2 separate regions of the Homo sapiens genome follow, and region 2 is linked to region 1. A link means that fine-mapping ties the variant in region 1 to the expression of a gene that starts in the linked region. Tissue or cell type: uterus. Region 1 holds a variant in brackets; the other region holds the start of a gene. All regions are shown on one strand. Distances are from middle to middle.

Region 1 (4,401 bases):
AAAAAGTAAATAATGCTGAGGAAGAAAATACATTCTTCTCATTGCAAAGAAAAGACTGTGAGGGAAAAGCAGGGTTTTTTTTTGTTTTTGTTTTTGTTTTTGTTTTTGTTTTCTGTGTGGTTGTTTTTTTTTTAGACAAAAACCATTTGATCTAGGGAAGTTGGCCTAAAAAGTTTGTTCTTTTTTCCTTTTAGGAGGTGATGGAAGGCATCAAGGTGGGCCTTTCACCCATTAATCTCTCCATTTTCCCCTCCAGAAATGATTTAGATTCTATAATCTGTGTTGATTTGTCCATATTCATTAGAGATTTGGCTTGGGCAGTTATTAATGATGACAATGATCACTCTCCTTTATGGCATTTCATGCTTAAAAGAATACTTCAGACTGCCTCCAAATAACAAAACGAGTTCTGAACAGTCATTGCCAGACTCACTTAATGTTCCTTTGAGCATCCACCGCATATCAGACTTCTGTCCAGCACTGCATTTGATTCGAGGCATGTACAGTACTCTCAAGGAGTCAAAGACAAACAGATGGGTTCTTTCCCTCAAGCGAATAAACATTTGTTTAGAACTCAGACACATTTCCCCATTAATCAAGATCAGGTTCCAAGGCCCTCCCATTAAAACCTTTTGAATCCATAACGAACCATCCTATAAAACTAGTAGCCTTGCCCTGAATTCTGGGTCGTAGGTCATATCCTAATAGGATATGACCACATGGAGGAGATGGAAGATCCAAGAAGAGAGAATATGGCATTTGAAGATTTAGTTAAATTTCTAGTTTATGAAATTCAAGATGCTTGTCCCACAAAGTGACACTAGAGGGCAGTGCATATAGCAAAACCTTGCAATGGAACAAGACTGAATTCCCATTTCCAATTAATGCTTTTTAAAATTCAAATGTCAGCTCTGAAGTCTTTTCATTTCATTCCATAGATAAAGGGAAAATATATTCAAATTATATGTCATCATAAAAAATATCTTGAGGATGAAGAATTTTGTTAATATTTATCAAAGTAATAATTTGATAAAAATTTTAAAAATTAAATAGTATTAACATTTCTTTCACAAAAAGGAAGTTCTTGTCCCTTCTTCTTCCCACCTGTCTTTCCTATAGTGTCTTCTGAATTTACATTTGTATTTCTATTTAATATGAACATATATATATTTTTTCTTTTTTTAAATTTAATTTTCTCTTTTTAAATTGACAAATAATTTTACATATTCATGGGATACGTAGTGATGTTTTGATACATATAATGTGACCAGGGTAGTTAGCAAATCTATCATCTCAAACATCTATCTTTTTTTTTTGTATTGGGAATGTTCAATATCCTTCTGGCTATTTGAAACTGTATAATATATTATTGTTAACTATAGTCATCTTAGAGTGGTTTAGAACATGAGAACTTATTCCTTCTATCTAGCTGTAATTGTCATACTTATATTTCTTGAGGCAAGTGATTATTTGGTTTGTTTTTAATGAATTTCCCCAGATACATTTTTCTGCTCCCCCCAAATCTATCTAATGTAGTCCAATTTTATTACATCAGAAATCATTGTTTACAATGAGATGTTATAATTGAAACTTTTCATTTTGGCAATTTTCTTATGCAAACAAAACAGACAGAATGATATAAAGAATG[C/A]CCATTTAGTCTTCATCTAGCTTCAACAACCATCAGTCTTCTCATTCGTGTTTAATTATTCCCACACTGTCTCTTCCTCCTCTCAATTATTTTAAACAAATTTTAAACCTTGTCATTTCACCAGCATTGTTCATATTACTAAGACTTTGAAAATACTGCTCAACATAGAACCAGCAATTACATTTTTTTGTATATTTTATTTGTCTAAAACTAATAATTCTCTCTTAAATTTTTGTTAGTTTTTATTAATTACTTATCATTAATTTTATTTTAACAGTGTTCCATTAGATATATGAGACACACACATATATGTAATAAATAAGTACATACATTTTATTTATTTATTTATTTTTTGAGACAGGGTCTCAGTTTGTTTCCCAGGCTAGAGTACAGTGGCGTGATCATGGCTCACTGCAGCCTTGACCTCCATGGGTTCAGGTGATCCTCCCACCTCAGCCTCGAGAGAGGCTGGGATTGCAGGAGTGTGCCACCACACCTGGCTAATTTTTGTATCTTTTGTAGAGACAGGGTTTCACCATGTTGACCAGGCTGGCTTTGAACTCCTAGTCTCAAGGGATCTGTCTGCCTTGGCCTCCCAAAGTGCTGGGATTACAGGCTGAGCCACCATGCCTGGCCATAAACTTTAAATAAATAAATGAAGTTTAAATAAATAAATGAAGTTTAAATAAATGACCTAACATATTACATAATGTATCAACTTTATTTTTCCCCCAGAAAACATTGTTCTGCAGTCCCCATCCTCCTTCTTTTCTTTTTATCGATACATAATATTTGTACCCATTTATGAGGAACCTGTAATATTTTGTTACATGCATAGAATGTATAATGATCAAGTCAGGGAGTCATGGCATTTAAGGGACGGGTTCCCAACGTCAGGGCCTGTCCGTGGCCTGTTAGGAACCAGGCTGCACAGCAGGAGGCGAGTGGCGGGTGAGCCAGCATTACCACCTGAGCTCTGCCTCCAGTCAGCTCAGCAGCAGCATTAGATTCTCATAGGAGCATGAACCCTATTGTCATGCACATGCAAAGGATTTAGATTACTTGCTCCTTGTGAGTATCTATCTAATGCCTGATGATCTAAGGTGGAACAGTTTTATCTTAAAACCAATCCCCCACCACCCCAGTCTGTGGAAAAATTGTCTTCCATGAAACCAGTCCCTGGTGCCAAAAGGGTTGGAGACTGCTGATTTAAGGTATCTATCACCTCTACTATTCTATGTGTTAGGTACATTTCAAGTCTTCTAGTCTAGCTATTTCAAAATATACAATAATTTGTTGCTAACTGTAGTCACCCTACTCTGCTATCAAACACTAGAATTTATTCTTTCTACCTCATTCTGTGTTTGTACCAATTAAACAGCCTCTCTTTATCCACCCCACCCCCAACCTTCCCAGCCTCTGGTAGCTACCATTCTACTCTCTACCTCCATGAGATCAATTCTTTTAGTTCCCACATATAAGTGAGAACGTGTAATATTTGTCTTTCTGTGCCTGGCTTATTTCACTTAACCTAATAACCTCCAGTTCCATCCATGTTGCTGCAAATGACAGGATTTCATCCTTTTTAATGGCCGAATAGTATTATATTGTGTATATGTGTCATATTTGCTTTATCTGGTCATCCATTGGACACTTAGATTGATTCCGTATCTTGGCTATTATGAATAGTGCTGCAGTAAAGACGGGGGTGCAGGTGTTGCTTTGACATACTGAGTCCCCTTCTTCTGGAAAGATACCCAGCAGTGGGATTGCTGGATCACATGGTAGCTCTGTTTTTAGTTTTTGAAGAAATCTCCATATTGTTTTTGATAGTGGCTGTACTCACATTTCCACCAACAGTGTATAAGAGTTCCCTTTTCAGCTGGGCTTGGTGACTCACGCCTGTAATCTCAGCACTTTGAGAGGCCGAGGTGGGCAGATCACCTGAGGCCAGGAGTTCGAGACCAGCCCAGCCAACGTGGTGAAACCCTGTCTCTACTAAAAATACAAAAATTAGCTGGGCGTGGTGGTGCGTGCCTATAATCCCATCTCAAAAAAAAAAAAAAAAAAAGAGTTCCCTTTTTTCCCACATCATCACCAGCATCTGTTATTTTTTGTCTCTTTAATCTTAGCTGTTGTAACTGGCATAAGATGATACACATTGTGGTTTTGATTTGCATTTTGTCCTCCAGTTGGGTGAAAGTGCGTGGAGGCTGTGCTATGGTTCAGCGGTGGTGGTTGTGGGGCCAGTGGGATCATTGTCTGTGGCTCATGCTTTGGCCCCAGGGCAGCAGCCAGCAAGGGGGATATCACTGGGGTGCCACAAATATGGAACTGCAGGGGCTGTTGGATTCCAGTGTAGGATGCAGTCTGCTGGGGGCTGGGGGCTCAAAATGGTGCGTTGCTGTAGCCGCTTAGGTTTGGGCGTGGGTTGGACCCCGGTGTGAGCTCCCTCTCTGAAACAGTGTGGTCATACAGTCTCCAGACAGCTCCCAGTGTTAGTATCAGGGCACGTGAGGGTGAGGTGCTGTCGCATGGCTAGGATTGCGGGAGTTCAGAGTGGGAATGTGGACCCCTGGGGTTCTCTCCGCAACTCCTTCCTTGCACTGGGGAGCCTCTCTGGGCTTCCGGCTGATCCTGGCTGAGCAGGCTGCCTGCCTTCCTTCTCCTTTCTTGCCTTAGACGTTTCCTGTCACTTCTCTGTTCTTTCCTAGATGATCTATTTGAAGTGTGATTATCTACTTGCTATTTTG
Region 2 (4,401 bases), 53 kb before region 1:
CTGCCGAGGTGTGTTTTATGGCCCAGTATACATGCCTTTTGATGTTTATATATAGGTATGTGTATTAGGCCTATACCTAGGAATTTCTGGGTCACAACGTGTATATTCAGCTCTAGTAAATATGAACAGATGATTTTCCAAAGTGGCTGTCACAACTGCACCCCCAACAATAGTGCATAACAGTTCTATGTGCTTCACGGCTTTGTCCTTGTGTTGTCTTGTCAGTTTTAAAATCTGTAGCCATTTTAGTGGATGTGTAGTATATATCATCATCGTGTTCATTTGCATTTCTTTAATGACTAAAAACATTAAGCATCTTTTTCACATACTGCCTGGCTATTTGGATTCGTCTTCGGTGAAGTGCTGTACTTATTGATTGCTTTTCTTTCTTATTGCTTTTAGGAGTTCTTGTTATATTCTAAATTCATTGTTAGATACAATATATCAAAAATACCTTCTCTCATTCCGTAGATCAGTTTTCATTCTTTTTCTTTCTTGAGACAGGATCTAATCCTGTTGCCCAGGCTGGAGTGCAGTGACACAATCCTGACTCACTGCAGCCTTGACCTCCCAGGGTCAAGCAATCCTCCCACCTCAGCCTCCTGAGTGGCGGAAACCATAGGCGTGCACCACCACACCTGGCTAATTTTTAAAAATTTTTCGTAGAGACGGGGTCTCCCTATGTTGTCCAGGCTGGTCTCCAACTCCTGGGCTCAAGTGATCCTCTCGTCTCAGCCTACCAAAGTGCTGAGATTACAGGTGTGAGCCACTGCACCCATTTCTTATTTTCTTAATGGTGTCTTTTGATGAATAGAGTTTCTTACTTTTAATCATATCTAATTTATCAATCTTTTCTGTGTGTTTGATGTTTTTTAGATGTGGACACCATTATTATCAACCTGTTTTCATAGAAAAGTTGAGTTTCTTGGCACCAGAGCTCCGCAGGGTCGGGACCAGAGGGAGGCAGGCCCGAAACAGCAAATCGCTCTCAGGCTTCTGCAGTGCACCCAGCACTGCAGGACACCCAGGGTCAGCACCTCCTCAGATTTTGAGCCCTAAGTACCTCATTTGCCTTGCCCTAGACCCACCCCTCCCAAAATGCTGAATTACCTCCTTAGGTTTATTACCTCCTAGACTAGGGCACAATAATTTTATTTGAGTTTTTGGATTTGGAACTCAGTAGCTTGAAGTCAATTAGCTTTCCTTTACCAGTGTCTAGTCCGTTTGGGCTACTATCACAACACACCTTAGTTTGGGTAATGCATGAACAACGGAACTCCACTGCTCCCAGTCTGGATGATGGGAAGTCCAAGATCAACAAACACGCTGGCAGATTCCTCATCTGTTAGCGTCTGTGCCTCATACAAGAGACCCTCTATGTGTCCTCACATGGCAGAAGCTTGCTCTGGTCTCTTTCATAAAGACACAGTACATTTGTAAATTTATATAGACTATAAAGGCACGAAATTCACATATGAATTTGGGGCAGGGTACAAACATTCACACCATAGCAACCAGTACAATCTTTTCTTGAATAAATGACTTTGACCTTTTTTTTTAAATTTATTTTATTTATTTTTGTAGACAGTCTTGCTCTGTTGCCCAGGCTGGAGTGCAGTGGCTTGATCTCGGTTAACTGCAGCCTTTACCTCCTGGACTCAAGAGATCCTCCCACCTCAGCCTCCCAGTAGGTGGGACTACAGGCATGGGCCACCACACTCTGCTAATTTTTGCATTTTTTGTAGAGACAGGGTCCCGCTATGTTGCTCAGGCTGGTATCGAACTCCTGGGCTCAAGCGATCTGCCCGCCTTGGCCTCCCAAAGTGCTGGGATTACAGGTGTGAGCCGCTGCCACGCCTGGCCTGAATAGGTGACTGCATGCGCTCCAGTCCTAGTCCAGTTGGAGAAGCGGAGAGTTTCCCCTGTCTTAAAGAAGAGGGCCCCCGCAGCCTTCCCGAGAACTTTCCATAGGGCCGTGGCCTCAGGCGGACTGCGAACCAAGATCATCAGCAGGGGGCGGCCCGGTGTTCTTAGAACCCGGGTCCCAAGAGCTTGTGAACAGGGCACGAGTGAAAACCCGGATCCAGGCTGGCTCCGCCGGAACGCGCCCCGAGCTCGCCCGCGCGGCCGCCTCTTCCGCTCCTGATCGGCTCTTCGGGTCTTCCCGGCGCCCAGGCTTGGGCTCATAGGGAGAAAGGAAGCTGCGCTGCATTCTGCGGGACGAACCCTGCTCCGCGCGAGGTGAGTGCGAGCGCCGCATCACATCTGGCCTCTGTGGTCTCTTGGTGGGGGTAGGGGCTTGATGCTGAGACACGGAAAGACGCTTTTCTGGTCCCACGGAAGCTGGGACACTACCTCCGGGAGTCACAGCCTAAGGAAACTCCCTCTCTGTACCGAGCAGGGGGTGCGTGTAAGAGACGGAATGGTGTGTGCAAAATAATCCAAGTCTGTTTTGGAGACTTAGTGGCGCAAAGGCAGAGCCACTGCCTGAGATTGAAGCCTGATCCACCAGGCGGGAGGCGGGTGCCGGGCCGGAGCCTCTGCTGGAGCCCGGAGAAGGAGCGCGGGGTCCCGGCGCCTCCCCGCCTGCCCCGATCGGCCTCCTCCCCAGGTCCGCGGCCGTCCATTCCAGAACCTAATCTGCCTTTGCGGGGCGCGAATTGCCTTGTTCTCCCCCAGGTCTTCCCAGAGAATCACTTGTTGCAGGAATGTTGTGTTGAAGTCGTAGCAACTGTGACTTTCTAGTTGCAGAGAATACGGCGTATTTAATGGAGAAAATGCCCCAGGAAAGCACCGGCAACCGCAGGCCTGGGTTATCCCATTTGCAAGCCATGTGTTAGGTATTTTGCACCCGATTAGTACCCTCAGAACAGAGCTCATTTTTTGTAAACTATAGAAGTAATTTTTCTGTGATTTTATGACATTTTCTGGGAATCTTTTAATGATTCTTTAAAATAAAGCAAATGTCACACAGAATGACTTTTTCTAACACCACGGCCCCAACAGCCTGCCCCCTGCTCCCTGCTGCAGCTCCCTGCAATAATAGTTGGTTAGAGTGTTTTGTGCATGAAATGACTTGGATTGTTAATTTAGTTTGTGGAATGCATCCAGCTCTGGCTGGCCACAGTTTTGAATAAGGCAAGTTGGCTTTCAGGACTTTATTCCCTTCGTACACCTTTCTTTCCAATGAGACACCCAGGAAACTCACGACCAATCTTGGGCTTGTTAGTAACGTCACACTACAACTAGGGCAGGGTTTCTCCCTGGTCTACCGTAGTCTCAAATGGAGGCCTTTCTCGCATTGAATAAGCAGCTCAGCTCTTTGAACGCTGAAGTTTCACTGCCTCCAATCTAGCAGCACCGTAGTCTCCGTTTTAAAACTTTCTTCTGAGTAAGGAGAAGCCAGAGGCGATTGGGTAGCCTCAGGTGATCATTCAGGTCTTCCAATTTCGAAATTGCTGTAATAACTCTTGCTCGCTTCCTGCTAGATGGCAGTGTGTAACAGTGAATTAAAAACACGATCTCAACTTTTACTGTGTTGTTATTGCTTGTCTTCTACAATAAGAAAAAAAAGTAAGTTTTCAAGTTTTATCTTACAAACAATATTTTTGAAAAATTTCAAACTATGGTTAAATTCAGGAAGTAAAAAGAATATAGTTTGGAAAAACAATGTTATTTATATATGTACAAATGTTGTTCAGTAGGCAGATATTTCCAACCCATATTTAAATGCTTTAAACTTTGGAATGTAGGCCGGCCGGGCGCGGTGGCTCATGCCTGTAATCCCAGAACTTTGAGAGACCGAGGCGGGCGGATCACGAGATCAGGAGTTCTAGACCAGCCTGGCCAATATGGTGAAACCCCGTCTCTACTAAAAATACAAAAATTAGCTGGGCTCATGTGGTGGCGTGTGCGTGTAGTTCCAGCTACTCGGGAGGCTGAGACAGAACAATCACTTGAACCTGGAAGGAGGAAGTTGCGGTGAGCCAAGACTGCGCCACTGCACTCCAGCCTGGGCAACAGAGCGAGACTGTCTCAAAACAAAACAACAACAACAACAACAACAAAAAACAAAAACAAAAAAACCAACCTCGGAATGTAAAGAGTTGATTTCGGGTAGATATTCAATATCTAATTCAATTACCAGCATTCTACAGTGAACATTTGTTACAATGTTTCTGAACATGGGTTTTTGAACATTTTTAGAAGTTAAGTTTATCTTAAAATGTCTTTCAGATTTTTTTCTTTGATAATGAAATTGGAGTTTTCAAAAGATTATACAGAATTACCAACAAGGAAAATGAAGATAAAGTAATCCTAAACCTGTTATATACAATTAAAAAAAAAATTTCCGGAAATCTTACTTTGTGATGACTCAAGTTGTCTGGATTACTGTCTCTT

Which allele goes with the higher level. Alleles are on the strand shown, and positions count from the first base shown. SD is a standard deviation of normalised expression in the study named.
For the expression in uterus of the gene that starts at base 2,159 in region 2, C is the high allele of the variant in region 1 and A is the other (moderate effect, 0.69 SD a copy in GTEx).

What was found.
Region 2: POFUT3 starts here. The variant in region 1 is fine-mapped to the expression of POFUT3 in uterus (GTEx, PIP 0.96).

What each region holds. Positions count from the first base shown.
Region 1 is chr8:33,417,730-33,422,130 of GRCh38, reverse strand. The region is part of intron 3 of POFUT3 (protein O-fucosyltransferase 3); the gene reads left to right. Among named protein-coding and RNA genes, the nearest start is that of POFUT3, 53 kb to the left of the region's middle. The variant C/A (reference allele first, on the strand shown) is at 1,649.
Region 2 is chr8:33,470,904-33,475,304 of GRCh38, reverse strand. POFUT3 (protein O-fucosyltransferase 3) reads left to right here and starts at 2,159. Exons shown (of 5, transcript NM_032664.3): 1 at 2,159-2,241. RefSeq lists silencers at 2,050-2,129, 2,420-2,659, 3,890-3,939 and an enhancer at 2,980-3,189.